4 linked regions of the Homo sapiens genome follow. The protein of the gene in region 1 interacts with the protein of each later gene in a pairwise test. Each region holds a gene or a part of one and is shown in the gene's direction. Other genes may lie near its edges. The genes, in order: P4HA3, CERCAM, MAGEA2B and SCARA5.

The links.
Region 2: the proteins of P4HA3 (region 1) and CERCAM interact in binary tests that used the Homo sapiens proteins (3 or more experiments, as listed by UniProt).
Region 3: the proteins of P4HA3 (region 1) and MAGEA2B interact in binary tests that used the Homo sapiens proteins (3 or more experiments, as listed by UniProt).
Region 4: the proteins of P4HA3 (region 1) and SCARA5 interact in binary tests that used the Homo sapiens proteins (3 or more experiments, as listed by UniProt).

What each region holds. Positions count from the first base shown.
Region 1 is NC_000011.10:74,266,616-74,273,643, reverse strand, and holds the end of P4HA3 (prolyl 4-hydroxylase subunit alpha-3 isoform 1 precursor), read left to right. Parts: intron 1-36; coding exon 37-99; intron 100-3,923; coding exon 3,924-3,992; intron 3,993-5,402; coding exon 5,403-5,499; intron 5,500-5,832; exon of another isoform or gene 5,833-6,048; intron 6,049-6,325; coding exon 6,326-6,396; coding exon of another isoform or gene 6,397-6,583; 3' UTR 6,584-6,987; downstream 6,988-7,028. UniProt on the Homo sapiens protein: Catalyzes the post-translational formation of 4-hydroxyproline in -Xaa-Pro-Gly- sequences in collagens and other proteins.
Region 2 is NC_000009.12:128,430,857-128,437,847, forward strand, and holds the end of CERCAM (inactive glycosyltransferase 25 family member 3 isoform a precursor), read left to right. Parts: intron 1-314; coding exon 315-447; intron 448-3,245; coding exon 3,246-3,373; intron 3,374-3,553; coding exon 3,554-3,757; intron 3,758-4,796; coding exon 4,797-5,049; intron 5,050-5,992; 3' UTR 5,993-6,491; downstream 6,492-6,991. UniProt on the Homo sapiens protein: Probable cell adhesion protein involved in leukocyte transmigration across the blood-brain barrier. Does not express any beta-galactosyltransferase activity in vitro.
Region 3 is NC_000023.11:152,709,962-152,717,632, forward strand, and holds the start of MAGEA2B (melanoma-associated antigen 2), read left to right. Parts: upstream 1-4,666; 5' UTR 4,667-4,721; intron 4,722-4,885; exon of another isoform or gene 4,886-4,967; intron 4,968-5,117; 5' UTR 5,118-5,196; intron 5,197-5,995; 5' UTR 5,996-6,115; intron 6,116-6,686; exon of another isoform or gene 6,687-6,784; intron 6,785-6,934; 5' UTR 6,935-7,000; intron 7,001-7,080; 5' UTR 7,081-7,145; coding exon 7,146-7,671. UniProt on the Homo sapiens protein: Reduces p53/TP53 transactivation function through recruitment of HDAC3 to p53/TP53 transcription sites. Also represses p73/TP73 activity. Proposed to enhance ubiquitin ligase activity of RING-type zinc finger-containing E3 ubiquitin-protein ligases.
Region 4 is NC_000008.11:27,989,671-27,997,351, reverse strand, and holds the start of SCARA5 (scavenger receptor class A member 5), read left to right. Parts: upstream 1-4,678; 5' UTR 4,679-5,095; intron 5,096-7,681. UniProt on the Homo sapiens protein: Ferritin receptor that mediates non-transferrin-dependent delivery of iron. Mediates cellular uptake of ferritin-bound iron by stimulating ferritin endocytosis from the cell surface with consequent iron delivery within the cell.

The sequences.
Region 1 (7,028 bases):
GCATAAAATAATATGTTCTGTTTTTTTTTTTCTCAGTCACCAAGCAGCCCCCTCTACAGAATGAAGTCAGGAAACCGAGTTGCAACATTTATGATCTATGTGAGTATTGCTCTGGGCTTCTTACTTCATGACTGACTATAGCTCTACTTTATTTTATTGTTTTCAAAGCAATTTCACGTATTGATTTTATCTGGTACTCAGCGCAAAAATCTCCAGGAATTTTGCGAATTTCAGACAGCATTTTTGATAGGCACTGTAGGAGATGTAAAGAAATACAAGACAAGGTTTCTACCCTGAAAGAGGCTGACAGTGTGTAAATCTAAATATGACCTTGGTATGGGCAGTGGATTAGGATGGGAAGTGGAGCTCCACTGAAGGCCAAGAGATAGAGGGACTTGAACAACACAGGAGGAGGATCTGAGAATCTGTGTCCTTGAGGTCTCATGGACTAATCAGTGTTGAAAAACAACCCATAGATGAGGTTGTGGGGCTGTGGGGAGGGAGATGGATGAGGAATGAGGCAGCAGATTTACAAGAGGGAAGAACAGAGACACTGAGAGAAATTCAGCAAGTGCTGCCTCTGATGTTTAGTGAAAATTCTCTTCCTTATCTCTCTATAAAATCTTCAGTAAAATCTCCATGACTCCCCTTTCAAGATAAACCAATAAATTGTACTTCTCTCCTAATTCCTGGCCTGATCAGGATTCGGCCCCAGTCTGTATCATCTCACCTGTCCCCTTCCCTTCAGATCATGTGGGTTTACTTTCGTCTCTATGGACAAGCTTCCAATCACCTGTCACTGGAAGAGAATATTAGAATTAATCACTTATTAGAAGAGATACCTTACTGTTAACTGAAGGGACAAACATATATAAGGGTTCTATATAACAACCAAAGATGAAGTCCTTGTTTCAGCCTCATTAGAATAGCAGACATCCCTCACCCCAGCTTTTCCTCTTCTATTAGGACTGTCTCTGGTCTCCACAGGACAGCCAAGAAAGGGCAGTCAGAGGCCAGCATTCTGTGTAGTCTTTAATGCCAGCAATTCCAGTGTGTTTCTCTATGTGGCTCAGTTCTGTACTTCCTATGGAACTGGAAGGCTTCCACTTACAATGGTGTCTGGCCTCATTCTGATCATTCTGAGGTCAGCTATCAGGCAGGGGACACATCTTGGAGCTGCAGTTGGTTGCATCTCTGGTTGACCACTCCAGCTGTTATGGGAGGTCACAAACGGCGAAAGAATGAACTGCTGCCAAAAAACAGGGCATCTAGGGCACAATATATCTCTGTTCTTTATCCCCTCAATATCTCCTATGGCTGGTTCCCTGGTTACAGGGCCCCAGTTACTATAGCGAAGGTAGCGTGGGTATAAGAGCCCAGTAATTTTAAATGGCAAATGCATGTGTGTGTGTGTGTGTGTGTGTATGTGTGTGCATGCACTCTCATGCACTTTCACATGTGTGTGCATGCATGTGCATTTGGGTTTTAAGTATTTGAGACAGAGTGGAATGGAATACACTTTGGATTTGGAGTCAGTTGACCTAATCCTGATTTTGCCACTTACTATGTGGCCTCAGCACAGATTACATCTATTATGTGAGCTCACTTTTTGCCCTGTGCTTCCTCACAGTGTTGTTGTGAGGGTCTGATGAGATAATGTAAGGAGGGATGTCACTCTGGAAAGTTCCATACTGTATGTTTCTGTCATTGTATCCCACAGAGCAATTAAAGGAAAGGGTATCATAAAGGGGAATCAGTATCATGGGACCAGGGAAGTGCTAGATTATGCCCAAGTCTTTCATCTTCAGGTTGGGATTTCTCGAGACAATTTCAAGACAAACATTTCTCAAGACAAATGTTAAGGTTTGTGGGAAACCTAAGACTGATTTTATAGGGAGAAAATAATCTTTAAGAAGTACAGAGGATTGAGTTGAAGTCCAGTTGGTGATTTTCTGCTCAGATTGGACATAAGATCAGTCCCAATCTGGGTGCGGTGGTGTGCACCTGTAGTCCCCGCTACTTGGCAGGCTCAAGCAAGAAGATCGCTTGAGCCCAGCAGTTCGAGTCCAGCCTGGGTAACATAGTGAGACCCTGTCTCTATTAAAAAAAAAAGATCAGCCCCAGTACAAAATAGTAGAAGGTATACAGACGGAAGATTTCTCTCCCTTTCCCACTGTTCTTACAGCCCATGCCGTGCTCATGAGCTTCATTGCATGCAGAATCCGATTTTCTTTTTAATGTGTTGGCTATGTCATTCCTTTCCACCATATTGTAAAACCACAGGTAAAAGAATGCAGGAAAGTCCAGGTTGCCCCTTACTGACAAGGGCTAGAATAGAATAATCTAATTTGTTACCTGAACACAAGGAGCCAATTGTTGTTCTCATCGGCTTTCCCAGTGTGCTACAGGGAGAGCCAAGGAATGCTAATAGTCACCACTGCCATTTCCAGGTTCCAAATCACCATGTCAGTTCACTTGCATCTACCAAGGGCCAGCGTCCTACCTCCTATACCTCTTGCTCTGTAACACAAGTAAATGTACCGGGATCTGACTGCCATAAGATTACAGAGCATGAACCTTCTGGTAGATAATGCTAGGCAGCGTGAGGTAAAACTGGCACTCTTGTGTGATGCAACTGCTGAAAAAATAATTTAGCAAAATGTATAAGAAGTATGAAACTTATGCATGTCCTTTTGACCCCATAATACTAGTGCCAAGACTCTTTCCTATGAAAACAATCCAAAATGCAAAATGATTTTTTTTCATTAAGTTGTTCAGTGCAGTGTTGTTTATAATAGTAAACATTTGGATATGACCTAAATTTCCAAATGTGTAGCATGATGGTTATGAGCAGGGACTTTGTAGTCACATGGCACCAGCTCAGCTCAAATCCTGACTCCATCATGGAAGAGCCATGTGACCTTTTATAAAGTGCTTAAGCTCTCTGAGACTTGGTTTCTTTATCTGTAAAATGTGAAGAGTTAAAAATAATAACGATTGTAACTCCTAGGATTGTTCTGAGGAATAAATGAGATAATATATTTGCAAGGACATAGTGTAACTTTTAGCATATAGTCAGTGCCCAATAAATGTCAACTATCACTATGTAAACTATAACTTTTTTCTGGATGGTACAATGATAATTATTGTTATTTAAAAATATTTTCCTGTTTTAAAACAGTTTACAATTATTATATATTTCTGTGACAACCAGAAAAAAAGCTTCACATTAAGAAAACATATCCATAGTCCTAGAACAGACCAGTGATGAAACTCCTTAGCTTGGGTTCCCTGGAGAGGAGCAGAGTGATCTGGAGAATATGCCAAAGGTGTAATAAGTAGTTCCTATGATGCCCAGCTTTCAAGAAGAATCATAGTCTAAACTGGTTTTCAAGCCACAAGTCATGATCCATTATAGGTTGTGAGATTAATTTAGTGGTTCTGATGAGCATTTAAGAGAACCACACTAGAATAGAATAAAATAAAGTAGAGAAGATCAGAAGCTATCTCAGATATTAAGAATGTTTTATGACAATTATATTTCAGGAGGTGTGTGTGTGTATGTGTCTGTGTGTGTGTGTATGTGTGTGTGTCTTGGGTCATTATTTAAAATGTATTTTTTCCTAAGGGTCTCAGTCAAAAAGTTTGAATCTACTTATTGTAGCCCTCAATAAGGATGTTAGCTGGAAGGGAAAGAAAGGAAGAATACCAAAACATTGTCCTCTTGTGGCCCTGTAGGCAAACACCAATGCCATTGAGTAGGCTCCCGAAGTTCCTCCTGAGTTGGATGATTGTCTTTCAAGTATTTCTCTCAGAGTTGAAGAAAAGACCATGAGAAGGAATCTATGCAGATGTGACATCATATGACAGGGTAGGGAAGTCGGTGGCAGTTTTAACTCTGGCTTCTTCCTCTGGTCTTGTAGCTGAGCTCGGTGGAAGCTGGAGGAGCCACAGCCTTCATCTATGCCAACCTCAGCGTGCCTGTGGTTAGGGTGAGTGGGGCCCTGGTCCCAGAAGACGGGGTTGAGGGAGTGCAGCGCTTACCCTCTAACCTTCACGCTGTCTGTGCTTGCAAGCCCATTCCTGGGAGGAGGGCCAAAAAGAGGTCTTCCCCAATTCCCAGAATCACAGATCATCCCATAGTCTTCTTTACTACCGCACACATGCTCGTCACTTGTGCCTCTATTTGTTATTTTATTTACACTTATATTGCAAGTAGATGATTACATGTCTGTCTTCCCTGTCACAGTACAGCTCCTCAAGATAAGAGCTCTGTTTTATTTACTTTGGATCCTCTACAGCATCTAGTTCCTTCCATCATTAGTTCAGTCCACATTGAGAGCTAGAGGCACGGAGGGTGCAGAGGGAAATTCATAGCCCTTTGATCCAGGAGTTTACAGAGACGTCAGCAGGCATTATGATGTTGCAATAGGGATTTGGAAAGGATAGGCGCTGAGGAGAACTGAGTCTAAGAGGTTTGCTTCATGAATGAGTATTTCCTCCAAATTTCAGATCAGTCCAACTCCCTGGCAGCCCTTACCTAATTTAGGAATGAAATGAAGATAACTAAACGAGATCATTCCTGTAAAGCAGGTAGTACAGTGCCTGGCACATCCTGAGCATTCGATAATCAATGCCAGGTATCTCTGAATACTCAGGAGCTTGACGCCTCTTGTAGGCTTAGGAACATAGAGACTGCCAATGCATCCTGGAAAGCTCTTCATGACCTGGAGTTTTGTCTACTTTGAGGACCAAGGTTAAAGTAATTTGACTACAGGAAGTAGATACGGCAAAGAAGCCGTGTATGGGGGAAAAACATACAGGATTTAGCGTCAGAACACCTGGGCTTGAGTCCTCACTTTGCTCCTTCTTTTATTGCATTATTTAAAGCCCTGGGCCTCAAGTTCTTTGCTAGGAAACTGGGGATTATGATACTGCCTGCTCCCTGAAAGTGTTAATCATAAGTGCCTGAGGGAGGAAAAGCTTCTGAGTTAATGACATGCTTGGCTGTATGGGAATATTTTGTTCCACCTTGTGGTTTTGTTCGGTGTTTCTCCTCAGTGACCCAATGACAAATGTGCTCACCTTTCTCCCAGAACTCACCATGCTGTCTTGTTCAGGTCTGTTTTATGTCTGTTTCTTGTGAGCTCCTGGAGAGCAGAACTGGACGTAATTTGTCCCTGCAGCCCCAGGACCTGGGGTGCAGGGGACTCTGTCAGTGACCCATGCATGAAGGAGTAAATGGCAACTTATGCCATTTTGTGCCATTTTATGCATGCATTGCCCCCAGACTGCATGGAAAGGCTTCTTCAATGACATGCCTGCATTTGTCCTTAGTATGTGCTTCCCGAGGACTGAGGTTCTGGGCTGACCCTCCCTGGGGCTGGGCCCTCTTGTTTCAGAATGCAGCACTGTTTTGGTGGAACCTGCACAGGAGTGGTGAAGGGGACAGTGACACACTTCATGCTGGCTGTCCTGTCCTGGTGGGAGATAAGTGGGGTAAGTCTTGCCTTTCTGGGCATGAGAAGGGGGTACAGGGTGCAGAGTAGAGTGAAACAGGGGATGGGTGGGACCTACCACAGCCATCCCATTCCAAACGCTTCATTACAGTGCCACATTATATTGAGAAGATCAGATTATGAATGAGGTGCCCCCAACAGACTGGGAGCCTATAACAGGCAGGGGTTCCTGTTACAGAGTGACAGTCAGTAAAGGTTTATTCACCTGACCAGATAGGCCTTGATTCCTGAGCACTGCCAGAGAGGAATATGGTGTCCCATCCACACTCTACCCCAAGGAAAGATGTGTCAAGCCATTGTCTCTCCTGTTTAGTGCTCCCCATGAGGAGGTGGGAAAACAAAGAAGAGATCAATAAGCAGATGGACGTGTTTATGTCACATATACATCCAGGAGCACTTAGCTCTGAAACAGAAAGAGAAGTGGAAGGGGGCTCATAAGCTGAGGTGGAGGCTGCCAGGAGATGCCACCCGTTTTTCTCTCAGTACTCTGGAATGGCTTCATGGGGAACATGGGCTTCTAAAATGAAGGGTGAGTGATCTTAGTTCCCAAACGTTTGAAAATGAGTTTACAGGAGACAGGACCTGTGACTTTTTTCCAGAGGACAATGTCCTCTTTGCTATTTATCTGCTGGAAGAAACAGCTTGTAGTCCATAGTGAGGCCAGGACTAGGCTGGGCAAGTGAGTTACCTAGGATGCAGAATTTAAGGGGGCACTCACACGCGCCTATGAGTGCGCACCAGTCTGCAGCATTGCTGCTGTCTGTTCTGCTGAGCCTGCTGTCTCCTTCTTCCCTGTTCTCTCCCAGTGGCCAACAAGTGGATACATGAGTATGGACAGGAATTCCGCAGACCCTGCAGCTCCAGCCCTGAAGACTGAACTGTTGGCAGAGAGAAGCTGGTGGAGTCCTGTGGCTTTCCAGAGAAGCCAGGAGCCAAAAGCTGGGGTAGGAGAGGAGAAAGCAGAGCAGCCTCCTGGAAGAAGGCCTTGTCAGCTTTGTCTGTGCCTCGCAAATCAGAGGCAAGGGAGAGGTTGTTACCAGGGGACACTGAGAATGTACATTTGATCTGCCCCAGCCACGGAAGTCAGAGTAGGATGCACAGTACAAAGGAGGGGGGAGTGGAGGCCTGAGAGGGAAGTTTCTGGAGTTCAGATACTCTCTGTTGGGAACAGGACATCTCAACAGTCTCAGGTTCGATCAGTGGGTCTTTTGGCACTTTGAACCTTGACCACAGGGACCAAGAAGTGGCAATGAGGACACCTGCAGGAGGGGCTAGCCTGACTCCCAGAACTTTAAGACTTTCTCCCCACTGCCTTCTGCTGCAGCCCAAGCAGGGAGTGTCCCCCTCCCAGAAGCATATCCCAGATGAGTGGTACATTATATAAGGATTTTTTTTAAGTTGAAAACAACTTTCTTTTCTTTTTGTATGATGGTTTTTTAACACAGTCATTAAAAATGTTTATAAATCATTTTTCCCAACTGAGAATATTCTTACATTATAATGCTGAGT
Region 2 (6,991 bases), on another chromosome or scaffold:
AAAAAAAAAAAAACATTAGCTGGGCACCTGTAATCTCAGCTACTTGTGAGGCTGAGGCAGGAAAATCACTTGAACCTGGGAGGTAGAGGTTTCAGTGAGCTGAGATGGTGCCACTGCACTCCAGCCTGGGCAACAGGGGCTCCAGTTCCCCAGGTCCAGTCCCTTGACAGCTTCAGGTCACACAAAGGAGTTACAAGGCAGAAACCTTCTTCAAACCCGACTCCAGTGTGACTGTCCCCAACATGCACAGGCCTGGCCCCTCTGGAGGGGTCTCTGGCAGGCACCCCTCACCCCGCCACACCTGTGTCCCTCAGGATGCTCAACAGCAGTGCCATCAGGAACCTCGGCGTAGACCTGCTCCCGGGCTACCAGGACCCTTACTCGGGCCGCACTCTGACCAAGGGCGAGGTGGGCTGCTTCCTCAGCCATTACTCCATCTGGGAAGAGGTGAGGGTGCCTGCTTCCTCCATCCACAGCCTTCGGGGAGAACGGGGCCAGTTTGTTCTATTCACTGCTCTGTGAACGAGTGAGTGAATGAAGACATTCATCAAAACCTGGCCAGCAGCTTTCAATCTCCTCTGTGTTCAACACCCCAGTGGGCACCACTAAGCGGTGCTTGTTTTCATTCTGCAGTCTCTCTTGAGCATCTACTATGTGCTAGGAGATATTCTGCTCTGAGAACACAGAGGAGGACAGGAACAATGCATGTCTGCTCCTTCCTGCAATAAAGGGATCCCCCTGGGGCTCAGGGACCAGAGCGGGATTATGGAAATCAAAACCAAGCTTGCAGTGGAGGGGAGAGGTATGGGCCACTTTGAGAGGTGCCTCGTGTGGGAGGGGGTCAGAATGGACCTCACCATTGAGGGGCCGGGAGAAGAGGCTTCTAGGCAGAAGAGAACAGTGGGTGCCAAGGCCCTGAGGCAGGAAGGTGTTTAGGAGCAGAAAGAAGGAAGCCTGGGGCTTAGCATGTGCTCAGTACTTGGCCAAGAAGCCTCGGCCCAGGGGCTGGGAGTGTGAGCGCAGGAAAGAGGTTGCTGGACACGGCAGGAGAGAATGGGAACTGGGCCCTCCAAGGGCAGCCCTTCCAGGAGATGGGACATGGATTCCTTGTTTGTGTTCTCTGCTATAGCCAAATATATGTGCACGTGTATGTGAGCATTATGGGTTTTTGTTTTGTTTTGTTTTCTGAGATGGAGTATTGCTCTGTCACCCAGACTGGAGTGCAGTGGCACAATCTTGGCTCATTGCAACCTCTGCCTCCTGGGTTGAAGCGGTTCTCCTGTCTCAGCCTCCCAAGTATCTGGGATTACAGGCATGTGCCACCACACCTGGCTAATTTTTCTATTTTTAGTAGACAGGGGGTTTCGCCATATTGGTCAGGCTGGTCTCGAACTTCCAACCTCAGGTGATCTGCCCACCTCGGCCTCCCAAAGTGCTGGAATTACAGGCTTGAGTCACCATGCCCAGCCTATGTTGGCTTTTTTACCGTCCCTGAACAAATTGGAGGATGACATGGTTCACTACTTTTTTTTTTTTTTTTTTTTTTGAGACAGGGTATTGCTCTGGCACCCAGGCGGGAGTGCAGTGGCGTGATCTTGGCTCACTGCAGCCTGGACCTCCCGGGCTCAAGCAATTATCCCACCTCAGCACCCCCGAGGAGCTGAAACTACAGGCGCGCACCACCACACCCAGCTAAATTTTGTATTTTTTGTAGAGACAGGGTTTCGCCATGTTGGCCAGGCTGATCTCAAACTCCTGAGCTCAAGTGATTCCACCCACCTCAGCCTCCAAAAGTGCTGGAATTACAGGCATGAGCCACCGCTCCTGGCTTCACTACTTTCTGAGCTGATTTCCTTTTCACAGAAGTTATCAAAAGTAGTTTTCCAAAAGTTATTCTAAAGTAACTTTTCCAAAAGTTATCAAAAGTACTTTTTCTTTTGGATATTCGGGGCTGGGGTCTTCCCACCCCCCACCCAGCCCAGCTTCCTTTAGAAAATAGCAGGAGGCCAGGCCAGGTGCGGTGGCTCACGCCTGTAATCCCAGCTGAGGCAGACAGATCACGAGGTCAGGAGTTCAAGACCAGCCTGGCCAACGTGGTGAAACCCCGTCTCTACTAAAAATACAAAAATTAGCCCGGCGTTGGCCGGGCGCCGTGGCTCACGCCTGTAATCCCAGCACTTTGGGAGGCCGAGGCGGGTGGATCACGAGGTCAGGAGATCGAGACCATCCTGGCTAACACGGTGAAACCCTGTCTCTACTAAAAATACAAAAAAATTAGCCAGGCGTGGTGGCGGCGCCTGTAGTCCCAGCTACTCGGGAGGCTGAGGCAGGAGAATGGCGTGAACCCAGGAGGCGGAGCATGCAGTGAGCCGAGATTGTGCCACTGCACTCCAGCCCGGGCGACAGAGCAAAACTCCGTCTCAAAAAAAAAAAAAAAAAAAAAAATTAGCCCGGTGTGGTGGTGGGCACCTGTAATCCCAGCTACTTGGGAGGCTGAGGCAGGAGAATCACTTGAACCCGGGAGGCAGAGGTTGCAGTGAGCCAAGACCATCTTTTGATGGGAACTGCAAGCCACTTCCCCGCCCCCAGAGAGTTGGGCTTCTGGGCCCAGCCACCATCTGTCATGCTTGCACTCAGGCAGCTGGAGGAGTGGGAGGGGAGATGGCTCCTGGTCTTGGCCATGGCTGCTTTGGCCTCCACCGTTCCTGCTCCTCTTCCATGCAGCCCCCTGACTTGGGGGGCCATTTCACTCCAGTCTGGGCAACAAGAGTGAAACTTCGTCTCAAAAAAAAAGGAAAATTGCAGGAGGCCAAAGTGACAAGCTGGGCCCTGGTGTTCAGCAGATGCGGGTTCATATCCCAGCTCTGCCACTTCCTGGCTGTGTGTCCTTGGACAGGCAGTTTCCCATCCCTGCATGTCCACCTCCTTCCTGCGATTGAGGATCATCATCTCCTGCCTCCTGAGGGCCCCTGCAGATACGCAGTGGCACAGCCCTGGGGCACAGTAGCACTCAGGGAATGTAGCAAGGGCCACGGTTACCATCATGATTCTATCTGGAGATCCTCAAATGCCAGAGCGAGGTTGGGATTTCCGGTCCCAGGCAGTGGGGCCCCCAGCAGGCTTTGGGGCAACTGCATGATGTGGCCAGGCCAACTGAGGCCAGGCAGAGGCTGTGAGCTTCAGCGTGGAGGGAGGGGGGTTGTTTAACTCCGAAGAGCCATCTCCCACCCCATTGTATGCCACAGGTGGTTGCCAGGGGCCTGGCCCGGGTCCTGGTGTTTGAGGATGACGTGCGCTTTGAGAGCAACTTCAGGGGGCGGCTGGAGCGGCTGATGGAGGATGTGGAGGCAGAGAAACTGTCTTGGGACCTGATGTAGGCAGCCTGCACCCTCAGGGACAAGGGGGCAGGGTGGGCCTCCGGAGTCTGCCTTTTCCTGCTTGGGACCCTGGCCGGCCCATCCCCTGAGAGCCTGGCCCTGTAGGAGCGGGTGTGGGAGGGTCCCATGACACCCAGGACCTAAGTGACTCCTGGGCCCCTTGGTGTCACTTACAGCTACCTCGGACGGAAGCAGGTGAACCCTGAGAAGGAGACGGCCGTGGAGGGGCTGCCGGGCCTGGTGGTGGCTGGGTACTCCTACTGGACGCTGGCCTATGCCCTGCGTCTGGCGGGTGCCCGCAAGCTGCTGGCCTCACAGCCTCTGCGCCGCATGCTGCCCGTGGACGAGTTCCTGCCCATCATGTTCGACCAGCACCCCAAGTGAGGCTCTGATGGGGGCCGGGCATGGCAGGGCAGAGGCGTCCCCTCCAGGAACTCACCTCAGTCAGCAGGAAGTCCCCTCACCTGGCAGATGGGGAGACTGGGACTGGCAAGGCCAAGCCACTTGGCCCAGGTCACCAAGGAGTGGCTCAGCCTAGCCTTAGAGTCAGTCCATTCTCGGTGTGTACTTTGCACAGTGCATGCAGGCTTTTTTTTGAAATGGAGTCTTGCTCTGTTGCCCAGGCTAGAATGCAGTGGCATGATTTTGACTCACTGCACCTTCTGCCTCCCAGGTTCAAGCAATTCTGCTGCCTCAGCCTCCTGAGTAGCTGGGATTACAGGGAAGTGCCACCACACCCTGCTAATTTTTATTTATTTATTTATTTATTTATTTATTTTTGAGATGGAGTTTTGCACTGTCACCCAGTGCGGTGCAGTGGCGCAATCTTGGCTCACTGCAACCTCCGCCTCCCAGGTTCAACTGATTTTCCTGCCTCAGCCTCCTGAGTAGCTGGGATTACAGGTGCCTGCCACCACACCAAGCTAACTTTTTTGTATTTTTAGTAGAGACAGGGTTTCTCCATGTTGGCCAGGCTGGTGTCGAACTCCTTGACCTCAAGTGATCTGCCTGCCTGGGCCTCCCAAAGTGCCGGGATTACAGGCATGAGCCACTGTACCCAGCCTCAATTTTTGTGTTTTTAGTAGAGATGGGGTTTTGCCATGTTGGTCAGGCTAGTCTTGAACTCCCGACTTCAGGTGATCCGCCCGTCTCGGCTTCCCAAAGTGCTGGGATTATAGGCATGAGCCACTGCGCTCGGCTGCATGCAGTTTTTAATCAAATGACTTCCTTGTTCTCAGCCTCTGTTTCCTCATCTGGAAAATGGAGGTAGTAGAAGTCCCACTGCTCAGGGCCGCTGTGAGGACTAGATGGCGGGGAGTGAGGTGCTTTGGGCAGGCAAGGTGCCTGGCTCCGGGCAGGCATGTGTCCGGGGAGTAGGGGCCCGCCTCAATCCCCCTGAGCTATCCTCTCACCTTACAGCGAGCAGTACAAGGCACACTTCTGGCCACGGGACCTGGTGGCCTTCTCCGCCCAGCCCCTGCTCGCTGCCCCTACCCACTATGCCGGGGACGCCGAGTGGCTCAGTGACACGGAGACATCCTCTCCATGGGATGATGACAGCGGCCGCCTCATCAGCTGGAGCGGCTCCCAAAAGACCCTGCGCAGCCCCCGCCTGGACCTGACTGGCAGCAGCGGGCACAGCCTCCAACCCCAGCCCCGAGATGAGCTCTAGGTGAGGCCAGGGCGGGAAGAGGCCCCAGCCCCGTAGACCTTGGCTTGCTCTCCCCTTTGATGGCATAACTGTGTCTGGGGCTGTTTTCCCCTTCTCAGCCTTCTCTCTCCCTCTCCATCTCTAGCTTTGCCTTTATGTTTGTTGTTGTTGTTGTTTGTTTGTTTTTTTTAGACGGAGTCTCGCTCTGTCGCCCAGGCTGGAGTGCAGTGGCGTGATTTTGGCTCACTGCAACCTCTGCCTCTCGGGCTCAAGAGATTCTCCTGCCTCAGCCTCCCCAGTAACTGGGATTACAGGCACCCACCACAAGGCCTGGCTAATTTTTCTATTTTTATTTTTATTTATTTATTTATTTTGAGATGGAGTCTTGCTCTTTTGCCCAGGCTGGAGTGCAGTGGCATGATCTCAGCTCACTGCAACCTCTGCCTCCCGCGTCCCGGATTCAAGCGATTCTCCTGTCTCAGCCTCCCGAGTAGTTGGGACTACAGGCGCCCACCACCACGTCCGGCTAAATTTTGTATTTTTAGTAGAGACAGGGTTTCACCATGTTGGCCAGGCTGGTCTTGAACTCCTGACCTGAGGTGATCTGCCCGCCTCAGCTTCCCAATGTGCTGGGATTACAGGCGTGAGCCACCGCGCCTGGCCTTTTGTATTTTTAGTAGAGACAGGGTGTCATCATGTTGGCCAGGCTGGTTTTCAACTCCTGACCTCAAATGATCCAGCCGTCTCGGTCTCCCAAAGTGCTGGGGATTACAGGCGTGAGCCACTGTGCCTGGCCTCTGTGTCTGTCTATAATTGTACCTTCAGCTGTCTCCGCATCCCTCTCTAGCTTTTTCCCTCTCTGTCTGTCTCTGCCCCTGTTTTCCTATATCTGTCAGTGTCTGTCTGTCTCTGATTCTGTCTGACTCTAATTCTCTTTCTCTTCCTGCTCCTCCTGTCCCACCAGGTCCAGGTGATGACTGCAAAGCAGTGTCCAGGAGCAGGCCACTACTGCCCAGAGAGCAGAGGAGGAGGTTGTTGGCAGGGACTGCAGATCCTGTCAGACCTGGCCACCACCTTGGGCATGGCCACTCTGCCCTCTGGACCTGTCTTTCATCGGGAGAAACCACTCAGAGATGGATCCCATTCCCTAAAGGTCTCACAGCAAAGGAGCAGGACTCCCAGGCCCCTGTACCCTGCCTGGCCTGATTCAGGGCCTTGTGGCCCCCAGCTTCTGTTTCAAGCTGGGCAGACCCCAGGATCCCTTCCCTCCCTAAGGACTCAGCTGAGGGGCCCCTCTGCCCCCTTCTACCTCCACCTCAGCACCCTCCCCCAGCTTGATGTTTGGGTCTCCCCAGCACCCTCCTCCCTGGCCGGTGCAAAGTACAGGGAGGTAAAGCAGGACCCTTGCAGACATGTTGCCCAGCACACAGTAGGCCCTCAATAAAAGCCATTTGCACTTTAAATATATATATGTATGTATATATATGTATATATATATATATATATATATGTATGTATGTGTATGTGTATATATATATATATATATATATATATATATGTATGTATGTATGTATGTATATATATATTTTTTGACACAGGGTCTCCCTCTGTTGCCCAGGCTGAAGTGCAATGGCGCAAACCCAGCTCACTGCAGCCTCAACCTCCTGGGCTCAGGCAATCTTCCTGCTTCAGCCTCCCATGTAGCTGGACCACAGGCACATGCCACCATGCCTGGCCACATTTTTTTTTGTAGAGACTGGGTTTTGCATGTTGCCCAGGCTGGTCTCAAACTCCTGGGCTCAAACAATCTATCCACCTCGGCCTCCCACAGTGCTGGGATGAGAGGCGTGAGCCACTGCACCCTGCCACTTTATATATATACATATATATACACGTATATACGTATATATACACGTATATATACATATATACGTGTATATACACGTATATACACATACACGTA
Region 3 (7,671 bases), on another chromosome or scaffold:
TTTCCAACAAAAGGTGTCGGAACAATTAGACACCTATACACAAATTATAATAACCTGGACATATCCTTACATATTCCATGAAAACTAACTCAAGATACATCATAGGTCTAATGAAAAATGCAAAAACAATACAACCTCTATAAGAAAACATAAGAGAAAATCCACATAACTTTGAGTTTGGTGATGAGTTTTTAAATTCAACACCAAAAGCATGATCAAGGAAAGAAAAATTTGCCAAGTTGATTTTATTAAAATAAAAATCTTATGCTCTTCAAAGGACAATGTTAAGAGAATGAAAACAGAAGCCACAGACTAGCAGAAAACATCTGCGGTACACATATGTGATAAAGAACTTGTCTCTACAATATATGCGAATTCTTAAAGCTCAATGATAGAAAAAATGAAAATAGTCAAAGATCTGAACACACACTACACAAAAGAAGATATACACATGGCAAATAAGCATAATAAAAGTACTGAGCACCCTTTGGCATTAGATAATTGTGTACTAAAATGGGATACCACTGCACACCTATCAGAATGTCCAAAATCCATAGAAAACCAAAACAAAGAATACAAGACCAAGAACAATTGCCAGCGAAGATGTGGAGCAACGGAAACTCTCCTTCATTGCTGGTAGAAATGCAAAATGGCACAGCCACTTTGGAAGGCAGTTTGGCGTTTTCTTAAAAAAATGAAAATAGACTTAGCACAAGATTCAGCAGCCATACTCAATCAATTTACCCAATTGATTTGAAAACTTATGTCTACATAAAAATTTGTATATGAATGTATACAATAGCTTATTTCATAATCACCAAAAATAGAAGCATCCAAAATGTATTTCATTTGGTGAATGGATATATATATATATATATATATATATATATATATATATATATAACCAGACATTGATACTACTCCTCAATGAAAAGGAATAAGTTCCAAGCCACACAAAGTTATACATGACTCTTCAGTTCATTATGCTAAGTGAAAGAAACCAGTCTAAAAAGGCTACATAGTATAAGATTCTATTTATATGACATTCTGGAAAATGCAAAATTATAAAGATGAAAAACCTATCAGTGGTGGCCATGGGGTTTATCCGACAAGCACAAGGGAATTTATCAGGGCAGTGAAACTGGTATGCATAATACTGCAATGGTGGTTCCGTGCTTGCTTTGGTCTGAATATTTGTGTTGCCACAAAATTCATCTGCTGAATTACCAAGGTGATGGTATTAGGCAGAAGGTGGGGTATTTGGAGAATGACTAGATCATGAGAGCAGAGTCCTCATGAATGGGATTAGTGTTTTTATAAAACAGACTCCACGGAGATCCCTTATCCCTTCTTGCATGTGAGGATCTAGGGAAAAGGCAGCTGTCTATGAACTAGGGAGCAGGACTCCACCAGACATGAAATCTGCCAGCACCTTGATCTTGGACTTCCCAACCTCCAGAATGTGAGAAATAAAGTTGCGTTGTCTATAAGCCACCCAGTCTATCACTATTTTTGTTATGGAAGCCCAAACGGACTAAGACAATGGCACGAGGCATTTGTCAAAACCCATAGATCTTTACAGCACAAAGAGTGAAGCTTAATGTATGTAAAGTTTAAAAGTAACTTAAGAGGTTGGAGAATCACGGGACGGCAGGTAGAATGTTCCACACACACACACACACACACACACACCTAGTTGTATAATAGATATATGAAACCACCACAATGAAGCAAGTGGGGGGAAAAGTTAACACATTTTGTACTCCATCAAAGAAATATATATTTTATAAAGTTTAAGTTGGCCAGATAAGTGTGTAACATAGTTGAACATTTGATAATCATTTATTTAATTTTTTAGATATGAAAACTATCGGCTTTTTGTTTTAAAAAAATCCTTATCTTTTAAAAATGCATATTAAGTTATTTAGAGATGAAATGGTCTAATGCCTTAGATTTACTCCACGTTATTCCAGCAGCTCATATGCAGGTAGGCGAGTGTTTAACTGGAACCAGATTTGCTGTGTATTTAAAGATGTTCATGCTCGGTATCAAGTATCCTGGGTTCATTATATTCGTTCCTGTTATTCTGTATGTGTGAAGGCTTTCCCTAATAAAACTTTTTTATCATAAATATGCCATTAAAAGTGAAATCCTAAATGAAACTGACCACTTTGTAGAAATAAAATAAATCAGTAACCAAACTGATCCAAAGAGGAAAAGAAAACTTTAACTATACAACAGAAACTGTACAATATTCAAAGCTCAAGCCACCCTCAAACATTCCAGGTTAGACAGCTTTGGAGGCCAATTTTACCAAATGATCAGGGAAAACTAACCACCGCCTTATATCAACTCTTCCAGAACATACAAAAGACTGACAATTGTTCAGTTCATTCTCCCAGGCTAGCCCTCCTGGATTTAAAAACCAGATGAGGACCACATACCTCCCCTGATGGAAAAAGAACACATCAAGTAAGCTCTCTTACACAGCAGTAAATATCCTACATAAATTAGTAGTACATTAAACGAATAAACAGGCTCTGCCCAAGGAAATAAAATATGATTTAACATTAGAAAAAACATCTGTTTCATTGTGATTCCTTACATACAAAATGGAAGAGAAAAAAATTTGATCCTGCCAACGGGTACAGAAAAAGCTTTTTAAATAAATTTAATATGAATTCATGGTAAAAAAGAAAATATTTAGGCAACCTATACTGAAAGAGAACTTCCATTTCCTAAAATCAACAGCAAACATACTTAAATGTCAAATGTTCGAAGAATTATCATTCAAGTCAGGAACGAGAAGTAGATGTAGCCTATTATCTCTACATTTGAAATCAGGATTGAGACACAAAGAGCTGTAAGTACCGAAATGAGTGAGTGGTATGAACATTGGAAAAACATGTAGTGTTTAGTGATAATACCATTATCGATCTTGAAAATTCAAAGGAAAAGGTATGCGGAATATTCAAGTGCATCGGCCTTCAGAACGAGGTATGCAACAGATTACTACAGCAAAATCAAAATCTTCACCTCACGAAAGCAATAACTAACTACAACAATTGATAGACAATATGCCACTTGCAATAGCAACAAAATCCAAGAATTACCTGAATAGAAGCCTAATAAAAATGTATAAGTTGTTTATAGAGGCAACTACCGAAGTATACTGACATATTCAGGAAAAAAGAGCTTGAAATCCATAGAGGAGTATAACATATTCATTCACGGGGAACACAACAGTGTAAAAATGTAAACTCAGCTTAAATTATTTACAATTTAGTGCCTTACCTGTAGCCGCCGACATTACAAGCAAATTTGGGCTGCTGTGCTCTGCTTCCCAAATCAACCCTGTAAATTTATAGAATGGAAACAGAAAGTAAAACACCAGTATCAGCAAGAAAATCTACACAACAAAACAGGGAAAGCCCAGAGTGAGACTGGAGACTGTGTTGAGCTGGTACTTGTGTGTGACACTTGCAGTGTCTGTTGGAGGGGGTTAGCGGCAGAGATGTTGGGGAGGTTTGTAGCCTGCCTAGACGGCAGATGAAAGAATGGGTAGAATAAAAGTTTTGAATTTTCCACTTCACTTCATTGCACAATCTGAGGCAGCCCCTGAAAACACGATGCCAAGAGCCCTAGGTAATAGCAGTGTCCACCAGGAAAATTGGGTTTGTTAAGGCAGCATGGCTCCAGAGTTCTGCTAATAACAACCTGAAACCAACAGAGTGGGAGAGGAATTATGTTTTTTAAAAAAATTCTTTCAACAGAACACAAAGACTGGAATGGAAGTAGACTAGGATATCAGAGTGAATCATGCATACTAAGGGTAGGTGTTAGTTCATAGAAATAAATATATATATTGCTACCTACATATATACTTAGAAGATATGTAAACCGTATTTCTTCAATTCAGAGAATAAATCATTTAGGACCAAAGGTTTGCCAAGTGTAGCTCTGGCTGGGGAGGAGCCCCCGTGGGAAGGTGTGCGTCTTCTCCCAGAGGTCACTATCATCGCGGGAGCTCCTGCCCTGCAGGGAGCACCTGGCCTGGCACCCGCAGCCATTCTCTACAAGGGGTGCAGATGCGCAGATGCGCAGATGCTCAGAGGTGACAGAAACAGAGCATCTCCCACCCATTCCTTCATCAAACAGCCAGGAGTGAGGAAGAGGACCCTCCTGAGTGAGGACTGAGGATCCACCCTCACCCACATAGTGGGACCACAGAATCCAGCTCAGCCCCTCTTGTCAGCCCTGGTACACACTGGCAATGATCTCACCCCGAGCACACCCCTCCCCCCAATGCCACTTCGGGCCGACTCAGAGTCAGAGACTTGGTCTGAGGGGAGCAAACACAATCGGCAGAGGATGGCGGTCCAGGCTCAGTCTGGCATCCAAGTCAGGACCTTGAGGGATGACCAAAGGCCCCTCCCACCCCCAACTCCCCCGACCCCACCAGGATCTACAGCCTCAGGATCCCCGTCCCAATCCCTACCCCTACACCAACACCATCTTCATGCTTACCCCCACCCCCCCATCCAGATCCCCATCCGGGCAGAATCCGGTTCCACCCTTGCCGTGAACCCAGGGAAGTCACGGGCCCGGATGTGACGCCACTGACTTGCGCATTGGAGGTCAGAGGACAGCGAGATTCTCGCCCTGAGCAACGGCCTGACGTCGGCGGAGGGAAGCAGGCGCAGGCTCCGTGAGGAGGCAAGGTAAGACGCCGAGGGAGGACTGAGGCGGGCCTCACCCCAGACAGAGGGCCCCCAATAATCCAGCGCTGCCTCTGCTGCCGGGCCTGGACCACCCTGCAGGGGAAGACTTCTCAGGCTGAGTCGCCACCACCTCACCCCGCCACCCCCCGCCGCTTTAACCGCAGGGAACTCTGGCGTAAGAGCTTTGTGTGACCAGGGCAGGGCTGGTTAGAAGTGCTCAGGGCCCAGACTCAGCCAGGAATCAAGGTCAGGACCCCAAGAGGGGACTGAGGGCAACCCACCCCCTACCCTCACTACCAATCCCATCCCCCAACACCAACCCCACCCCCATCCCTCAAACACCAACCCCACCCCCAAACCCCATTCCCATCTCCTCCCCCACCACCATCCTGGCAGAATCCGGGCTTTGCCCCTGCAATCAACCCACGGAAGCTCCGGGAATGGCGGCCAAGCACGCGGATCCTGACGTTCACATGTACGGCTAAGGGAGGGAAGGGGTTGGGTCTCGTGAGTATGGCCTTTGGGATGCAGAGGAAGGGCCCAGGCCCTCCTGGAAGACAGTGGAGTCCTTAGGGGACCCAGCATGCCAGGACAGGGGGCCCACTGTACCCCTGTCTCAAACTGAGCCACCTTTTCATTCAGCCGCGGGAATCCTAGGGATGCAGACCCACTTCAGCAGGGGGTTGGGGCCCAGCCCTGCGAGGAGTCAAGGGGAGGAAGAAGAGGGAGGACTGAGGGGACCTTGGAGTCCAGATCAGTGGCAACCTTGGGCTGGGGGATCCTGGGCACAGTGGCCGAATGTGCCCCGTGCTCATTGCACCTTCAGGGTGACAGAGAGTTGAGGGCTGTGGTCTGAGGGCTGGGACTTCAGGTCAGCAGAGGGAGGAATCCCAGGATCTGCCGGACCCAAGGTGTGCCCCCTTCATGAGGACTGGGGATACCCCCGGCCCAGAAAGAAGGGATGCCACAGAGTCTGGCCGTCCCTTGTTCTTAGCTCTGGGGGAACCTGATCAGGGATGGCCCTAAGTGACAATCTCATTTGTACCACAGGCAGGAGGTTGGGGAACCCTCAGGGAGATAAGGTGTTGGTGTAAAGAGGAGCTGTCTGCTCATTTCAGGGGGTTGGGGGTTGAGAAAGGGCAGTCCCTGGCAGGAGTAAAGATGAGTAACCCACAGGAGGCCATCATAACGTTCACCCTAGAACCAAAGGGGTCAGCCCTGGACAACGCACGTGGGGGTAACAGGATGTGGCCCCTCCTCACTTCTGTTTCCAGATCTCAGGGAGTTGATGACCTTGTTTTCAGAAGGTGACTCAGGTCAACACAGGGGCCCCCATCTGGTCGACAGATGCAGTGGTTCTAGGATCTGCCAAGCATCCAGGTGGAGAGCCTGAGGTAGGATTGAGGGTACTCCTGGGCCAGAATGCAGACAGGGGGCCCCATAGAAATCTGCCCTGCCCCTGCGGTTACTTCAGAGACCCTGGGCAGGGCTGTCAGCTGAAGTCCCTCCATTATCCTGGGATCTTTGATGTCAGGGAAGGGGAGGCCTTGGTCTGAAGGGGCTGGAGTCAGGTCAGTAGAGGGAGGGTCTCAGGCCCTGCCAGGAGTGGACGTGAGGACCAAGCGGACTCGTCACCCAGGACACCTGGACTCCAATGAATTTGGACATCTCTCGTTGTCCTTCGCGGGAGGACCTGGTCACGTATGGCCAGATGTGGGTCCCCTCATCTCCTTCTGTACCATATCAGGGATGTGAGTTCTTGACATGAGAGATTCTCAAGCCAGCAAAAGGGTGGGATTAGGCCCTACAAGGAGAAAGGTGAGGGCCCTGAGTGAGCACAGAGGGGACCCTCCACCCAAGTAGAGTGGGGACCTCACGGAGTCTGGCCAACCCTGCTGAGACTTCTGGGAATCCGTGGCTGTGCTTGCAGTCTGCACACTGAAGGCCCGTGCATTCCTCTCCCAGGAATCAGGAGCTCCAGGAACCAGGCAGTGAGGCCTTGGTCTGAGTCAGTGTCCTCAGGTCACAGAGCAGAGGGGACGCAGACAGTGCCAACACTGAAGGTTTGCCTGGAATGCACACCAAGGGCCCCACCCGCCCAGAACAAATGGGACTCCAGAGGGCCTGGCCTCACCCTCCCTATTCTCAGTCCTGCAGCCTGAGCATGTGCTGGCCGGCTGTACCCTGAGGTGCCCTCCCACTTCCTCCTTCAGGTTCTGAGGGGGACAGGCTGACAAGTAGGACCCGAGGCACTGGAGGAGCATTGAAGGAGAAGATCTGTAAGTAAGCCTTTGTCAGAGCCTCCAAGGTTCAGTTCAGTTCTCACCTAAGGCCTCACACACGCTCCTTCTCTCCCCAGGCCTGTGGGTCTTCATTGCCCAGCTCCTGCCCGCACTCCTGCCTGCTGCCCTGACCAGAGTCATCATGCCTCTTGAGCAGAGGAGTCAGCACTGCAAGCCTGAAGAAGGCCTTGAGGCCCGAGGAGAGGCCCTGGGCCTGGTGGGTGCGCAGGCTCCTGCTACTGAGGAGCAGCAGACCGCTTCTTCCTCTTCTACTCTAGTGGAAGTTACCCTGGGGGAGGTGCCTGCTGCCGACTCACCGAGTCCTCCCCACAGTCCTCAGGGAGCCTCCAGCTTCTCGACTACCATCAACTACACTCTTTGGAGACAATCCGATGAGGGCTCCAGCAACCAAGAAGAGGAGGGGCCAAGAATGTTTCCCGACCTGGAGTCCGAGTTCCAAGCAGCAATCAGTAGGAAGATGGTTGAGTTGGTTCATTTTCTGCTCCTCAAGTATCGAGCCAGGGAGCCGGTCACAAAGGCAGAAATGCTGGAGAGTGTCCTCAGAAATTGCCAGGACTTCTTTCCCGTGATCTTCAGCAAAGCCTCCGAGTACTTGCAGCTGGTCTTTGGCATCGAGGTGGTGGAAGTGGTCCCCATCAGCCACTTGT
Region 4 (7,681 bases), on another chromosome or scaffold:
CTTATATTTCATGTGAACCAGATTAAAAACTAACCAAAAAGAAAATACTAAAGGTAAACATTTTCGAGTGTATTTTTGCAGAGTAGGCCACAGATAAAGAAATAGCAAGGTCCCTGGGGTAGTCAAATTCAAAGAGACAGAAAGGAGAATGAGTGGTGCCAGGGGCTGGAGGACAGGGGACGGGGAGTTGTTGAATGAGTGGAGTTTCAGTATTGAAAGATGAAAAGAGTTCTGGAGACTGGTTGAACATCAATTCAAATGTACTTAACACTACTGAACTATGTATTTAAAAACAGTTAGGGCTGAGCATGGTGACTCATACCTGTGATCGCAGCACTTTAGGAAGCTGAGGCGGGTGGATCATTTGAGTTTGAGACCAGCCTGGCCAACATGGCGAACCCCCCGTCTCTACTAAAAATGCAAAAATTAGCTGGGCGTGGTGGTTCACCCCTGTAATCCCAGCTACTTGGGAGGCTGAGGCAGGAGAATTGCTTAAGCCCAGGAGGTGGAGGTTGCAGTGAGCTGAGATCACGCCACTGCACTCCAGCCTGGGCCACAGAGTAAGACTCTGTCTCAATAAATAAATAAATAAATAAATAAATAAACAAACAAACAAACAAATAAATAAGGGTTAGGATGGCAAATTTTATGCAATGTGTGTTTTACCACAATTAATTTTTTTAAAAAGTTTAAACAAGAAGTAGCAAACTATAATGAAGAAATATGTAAAAAAAAAAAAAAAAAGAAGCAAAAATATGAACAGTACAGGATCGATGTGTTCCCTGGGAGAAGATAGAGACAAAAAAGAAGGGCGTGGCCTCAGCTCCACTCTGTGCTCAGGGTGAGACCCAGGCTTCCCTCTCCCCTGACCTCCTCTCTCTGGCCACTGCATCCTCTGTGCTCTGGCCACTGGGCCTTTCTCTGCCCCTCCGGCATGTCCAGTGTGTTTCCATACTGAGGCCTCTGAGCCTTCTGTTCCCTGTGCCTGATGCTGTTTCCTCAGATTGTCACACAACCAATATTTCTGGAGCGTGTACTGTGCGCCAGGCACCCTGCTAGGCATTTTGAAGCACTCAAGTGAGCTGCCTTCCTGGAGCTGCTGTTCTAGCAGACAGTAAGCAAAACCAAGCAGGGTGAGGGGGACTAAGAGTGGCAAGGGGTGTGTAGCAATTTTATTTATTTATTTATTTGAGATCAGGTCTCGCTTTATCACCCAGGCTGGAGTGCAGTGGTGCAATCCTGGCTCACTGCAGCTTCGGCCTGCCTGGTTCAAGTGATCCTCCCACCTCGGCCTCCCGAGTAGCTGGGACTACAGGTGCCTGCTACTGCACCCAGCTAATTTTTGTATTTTCGGTAGAGACAGGTTTTCACCATGTTGACCAGGCTGGTCTCAAACTCCTGACCTTAAGTGATCCTCCCGCTTTGGCCTCCCAAAGTGCTGGGATTGTAGGCGTGAGCCACCATGCCTGGCCTGTGGGTAGGAATCATTAGGCTCAGCAGCATGAACAAAGTGACATTTGAGAAAAGATGGGAATGAGGCAAAGAAGTTAGTTGTGCAAACATCTGGTGGAACCACTCCAGGCAGATGGAACAGCCAACCCCAAGCCATAGGGCAGGACCTGCTGGTGTAACGGGCCCAGAGTTCAAGTCAACAATCAGACTTAATGACATAATTAAAGGTGCTCAACTTCATGAGTCATCAGGAAAATGCAAATTAAAACCACAATATGGCACCTCTACAATGCACCAGAGCAGGGAAAATGGAATAAACATCACTGACACTGACAAGGACAAGGAATAAGTGTAGTTTCATCCCCTGCTGGATATAAACTAGTACAACCACCATAGGAAACTCTTTGGCAGTGTCTACCAAAGCTGAACACAGGGCCATCCTATGCCCTGGCGATTCCATGCCCAGGTATATGCCCAAGAGAATGGCATTCATATGTTCCCCAGAAGACACACACAAGAATGTTCACAGCAGCACCATTTATCAGAGTCAAAAATGGAGTCTGGACATGGTGGCTCACACCTGTAATCCCAGCACTTTGGCTGGTGGAGGCGGGAGGATTGCTCGAGGTCAGAAGTTTGAGACCAGCCTGGGCAAGATAGCGAGACCTCATCTCTACAAAGGATTTTAAAAAATTAGCTGGGTGTGGTGGCATGTGCTTGTAGCCCCAGCTACTCAGGAGGTTGAGGTGGGAGGATCACTTGAGCCTGGGAGGTCGAGGCTGCAGTGAGCTATGATTGTGCCACTGTACTCCGACCTGGGTGATAAAGTGACATCCTACCTCTAGAAAAAACAAACTGAAAAAGCTTGGTCCCTCCATTTCAAATACTGAGATTTCATAGATGAAACTACTTCAGAAGTCTATTGAACCCTCCTCTATCAAGGCAATCACATTTTCATTCAGCTTCTGGGGGGGAAATGCCTACTACAAATGCCATCCGTGATTGAATGGAAGCAAATCATTTTGGGGACAATTCTGATTTTAGTGGCAAGGAGGTATCTGAGCTAAGAGCTGCCGGGAGGACTCTCACCCATGAGAAAACCAGCCCTCCAGGTCATTCCTATACTTCACTGTCAAATCTCCCTTTGCCTGTTCCGGCAGCTTTATTCATAATAGACAAAGATTGGAAACATCCCAAACCCCCTTCAGCAGGAGACCGATATACACATTGTGTGTGGTATGTGCCTATCACGCAATAGGACTCAGTGCTTCGAACAGGGCGGGAGGTGGGAGGACAAGCGAGGATGAGCGTGGAGTCCTCACATGGCAGAAAGGCAGAGGATCAAGCCAGCCCACTCCTGCAAGCCCTTTCTACGGCATCCCAAATACATTCATGACTCAAATACCCCCACAAAGGCCCCACCTCCCAACACTGTTGCAATAAAGATTACATTTCCAATGCTTGAATTTAGGGGGACACTAACTACCACATTTCTTGCTAACATACACATCTCTTTAGGGAAGGTCTTTGGACATCACTTTTTTTTTTAAGACAGGATCTTGTTCTGTTACCCAGTCTGGGGTGCAGTGGTGCGATCACAGCTCACTGCAGCCTCAAACTCCTGGGCTCAGTTGATCCTCCCATCTCAGCCTCCCAAGCACCTGGGACTACAGGTGTGCATCACCACGCCCAGCTATTGTTTGTATTTTTTTTTTTTTGTAGAGACAGGGTTTTGTCATGTTGCCCAGGCTGGTTGGACATCATATTTTGAGCACATTTCTGGCTGTTTTTAAGATTACATTCCTAGGAATGTTGGTGAATTGATGGGGGACAAAAACATTTGTTTCCCCTTGAGAGGCAATGGTACAGGGGAGGGGTTAAGAGCATAGACCCTAGGATCACATTGCCTAGGGTTGAATACTAGCTCTGCCACTTACTGGCTACAAGACCCTGGACAAGTCACTTCCTCTCTGTCTCTGTAAATGAGCATAATAGCAGCACCTGCCTCAGGGGGTTGTTGAATAGGTTCAATGAGCTAATATATAAGAAACACATGGTATATGCTATAAAGTGTTGTCTTCTTTTCCTTCTCCTCCTCCGCTCCCTGGGATTATTACCATAATGATACAATTATCATTTGTTCTTTCTGTAAAATGGAGTTTGATGTTGGAGCTGCTTCCTAGGCAGTCAGGCAGGGCAGTCACTGAGAATGAGGACGGCGTTTCTGACTCAGCTGTGGGCGGGCAGCTGCAGTGACACAGCTGAGTCTTGGCAAACACTTTTCATGTACGAAGCCTGACCCTGGAGTCTTGAGGCTGAACTTTTCACCAACAAACAGGAATGCATTCATGAATGTTACCTCTGGGTGCTGTCCTCTGGAAGCCATCTGCATAGCCTAACTCTGCCACCCTGGCTTGGACAATTATGGTGATTTCTCTGATGCCCCTGATACTACCACCTCAATCTGAATTTAGCAGCTCCCTTCACATATGGTTAGATTGCCTTTAAAGAGATTTTTTTTTTTTTTAGAGATGGGGTCTCACTATGTTGCCCAGGCTGGTCTTGAACTTGTGGGTGGGCTCAAGCAATCCTCCCACCTCAGCCTCCCAAAGTGCTGGGACCACAGGTGTGAGTCACTGCACCCGGCCTAGATGTCCTTTTTCAAACGTAAGCAATCATGCTCAGGTTTAGGATTATTCGTGCCTGGGTCCCCCTCCCATACTGAATTGCTATGGACAGCCAGCTAGTCTTCATCCTGCACCCCCCAGCCCCTGTGCAGCGTTAATGAGCCAGAAACGCTGATTCTGCTGCTGAGTTCCGTGGAACCCCCTGGGGCATTTTCCTGACTACCCCCAGTGTGGCCAATCCGTGTCCACTGAGGATGAATGTGACTCCAGGAAAATACATGAAGTAACTCTGTGCCAAGCTTGGTGAATGAATTGAGCCATGCCAATTCTGTGCTATAAATAAATTTACAAGACTGGTTTTCTTGCGTGGCTCATAAGCCAGGTCTAGCTGCCACTCCCCCAGAAGTCTTCCAAAAAGTATTTTGAGCAGGACCTTTAGACTGGGGTGTTGGAGTCCCAAGGCCAAGGCCGACCGCGCTGCTCTGGGCCCAGCGGGCGTTCCCACACGGGGCTGTAATGCCACGATTGGCCGCAGGAGGGGGGCCGTATTCCAGACCCCATTGCAGAAGCCTCCGCAACTGCTCCAAGAACTTTATTTTATACGGACTGGCGGCGAGAGCAGCTGCAGTTCGCATCTCAGGCAGTACCTAGAGGAGCTGCCGGTGCCTCCTCAGAACATCTCCTGATCGCTACCCAGGACCAGGCACCAAGGACAGGGAGTCCCAGGCGCACACCCCCCATTCTGGGTCCCCCAGGCCCAGACCCCCACTCTGCCACAGGTTGCATCTTGACCTGGTCCTCCTGCAGAAGTGGCCCCTGTGGTCCTGCTCTGAGACTCGTCCCTGGGCGCCCCTGCAGCCCCTTTCTATGACTCCATCTGGATTTGGCTGGCTGTGGGGACGCGGTCCGAGGGGCGGCCTGGCTCTCAGCGTGGTGGCAGCCAGCTCTCTGGCCACCATGGCAAATGCTGAGATCTGAGGGGACAAGGCTCTACAGCCTCAGCCAGGGGCACTCAGGTGAGTCTTGGTACTAATTTTGTCCTATCTCCTGGGCATGCTGTCTCAAAGACAGCTGGAGGAGACTGGAGTGAACTGGATGGAGAGGAGTACAGAGTTTGGGAAACTTCAGACCTAGAGCCTGGAGGTGCCTTCTCCAGGTGGGAAGGTCCCCGCCTGCTGGGCCCGCAGATATCTGCCGGGCCCTCATCCAACTGCCTGGGCTGGAGAGAATGTGAGCCTGCATTTGGGGTGCCAGAGGGAAGCTATTGCCTTGGTGGCTACTCCACCTGACTCATGTCACAGCTCAAGAGCCTACTCAGGGTGCAGATGGCTCAGGTGACAGCTCCTCTCCATGGCTTCGTGTGTGTGCATGTGTGTGTGTGCATGTGTGTGTGTGCATGTGTGTGTGTGTGCATGTGTGTGTGTGTGCATGTCTGTGCGTGTGCATGTGCCAGTGGTGGGATATATGTGGGGAGAGGTTATTTCTAAAATATCTGTCTCTGTCCAGCTTTGGGTTATGATTTAGCTTAACTAAGTACAGTTAGAGGAGGAAAACATTTAAAACCTCCTTAGTGATTCTCTCTTTGGAGAAGGGCCACACTCATGTGATTTTTTTCCTTGGTTTTGATGAGTTTAAAGTGAGGTAATCCAAAGAAAAGCCATAAACCCTGCAGAGTTAGATGCGGGTACCCAGAGAAACTGACTTGGTAGCAGCAAATGAGGCTCGTGCTACCCACTCAGAGGAGGAATTAATGGAGTCCTTCTGATCTCCAGAGAAGGATTGAAGAGCCAGGGTCCTGATATCAGCCCTAGAGTGCATTCGCGATTGCCTTTTACAAAGGGAACTTCAAACAGCTTTGTTTCTGAGACTGGCTAGGTAGGAGGGAGGCCTTGGGAACCTGGACACCCCCTTACCTGGCTGCCAGGCAGAGTCAGAAGATGCTGGGGGATGCTTTTTCTCATCAGACTGCCACCAGCTCCCCTGAGTGACCTTGTTCATAAAGTCATGCCACATGCATTATCTCACGGGAGGCTCACAGTGATCCTGGGTGACCAGCAGCTACCCACCTTCCCATCTTAGAGGTCATGTACCTGAGGCTGAATGAGGTCAGGTAATTGAGCCAAGTTCCCCCAAGAAACCAATACGCAGAGGAGCTAGGATGGGAGCCCTTGGCTTCTGTGTTCCCTGCATTCCTGCAGAGAGCCAGGCCTGCAGGGCGCAGATGGCCCCAGGGCACAGGGCTGCAGGGCACAGATGGCTGAGGGCTTTTCCAGCTCTAAAATGCAGAATCTAGAAGCAGATCCCTGGCTCTGAACCTGCCCTTCTAAGTGCCTTGGGTGAAATTGTCTGGAAGTAAATCATGATTGCCAAGAGGTTAGTGGAGAGGGTGACACCTCCCTGTTAGAGCAAGACCTCCCTCTTTGAGTTGCAAGTTGAGGTCCAGTCTCCTTGGGCTTCATCCACAGGTCACTGTGGCTTCCACATCTCGCCCATGTGCTTCAAGCTCTCAGAGCCCTGCCTCAGTCCCAGGATCCCCACCTGCTGGAGTACACTGGCTGGCAGTCTGAGGTGGGATTCTCTTCTCTGCCTGATCTGGGGCCCAGAAAGTGGTCACCAAAGGGGCTGACATGCAATTCCCAAACAAAGCAACCCTGCAGCTGAGCCAGTGCCCTGTGTAGGAAAACTGTGCCCGGGGCCTCTTCCCGCTCTGATATCCATTCCTTCCTTTGCCTCTTTGGTCTGGGATGGCTTATGTTTAAAATGGGAGGGACGGAATGCAAATGCCATCAGCCTACCCCCAACACAGTGCTCCTGGGAGGAGCACTTGCCATCAGTTTCATCTTCTAGAGCACAGACTTGGTCCAAAGACAGTAAGATCCATGATCTGAGGGTCCCAATGCCTGCTTCCTCCCCCAAGAAAGAAAAACAGCCCCCAAGAAACCTTGGGCAGACAGAACATGCGTAGGTTTCAATTCCAAGTAACAAACATGAGTAGAGTTGTCTGAGCTTTTCCAAGCCCTGTGCACTCACATCTGGCCCCGCTCGGCCCCAGTCCCTCTCCCCAGCAGATCCCCTGGGCTCCTGCTGGACCAGCTGAGGGGTGGGGAGGAGGAAGGAGACAGCTGCCCTTCACACACATTCTGGCTAACAAGCCGTGCATTCCAGCCCCGTCCCAGGAGCTGACCAGAAGAGGAGGAAGGTGGAAATGGCAGTGGGGCCTCACACCTCCACTCCCCAGGGGCAGCGCCCTGTCTGGCTCTGTGTGGCCTCTGGGAAGCAGAGGCTATTGCCTTTGGCAGAGGGAGGGTTATTGCAGGCAAAAGAGACATTGGCCTCCTGCTTCACAGCCCCGCAAGGAGTGAAGCCAGAGGGAGGGCTGCCGCACACAGTGCTCATGAAATGAGGGAGGGTCCCTTGCAACTTAGCAGTGCTGGAGCTGCCCGCGGCCCCACCTAGAGGCCCTGCCTGGGTGGAGGCATTGGGTGGAGGGCCGGAATTGGGAGCCCAGTGAACTGGACACCACTGCAGCACAGGGAAGCCAGAGTGGGTGGTGTCTGGGGCAGGGAGGAGAGATCCTGGCAGAGCCGAGGACCACCCCCTGT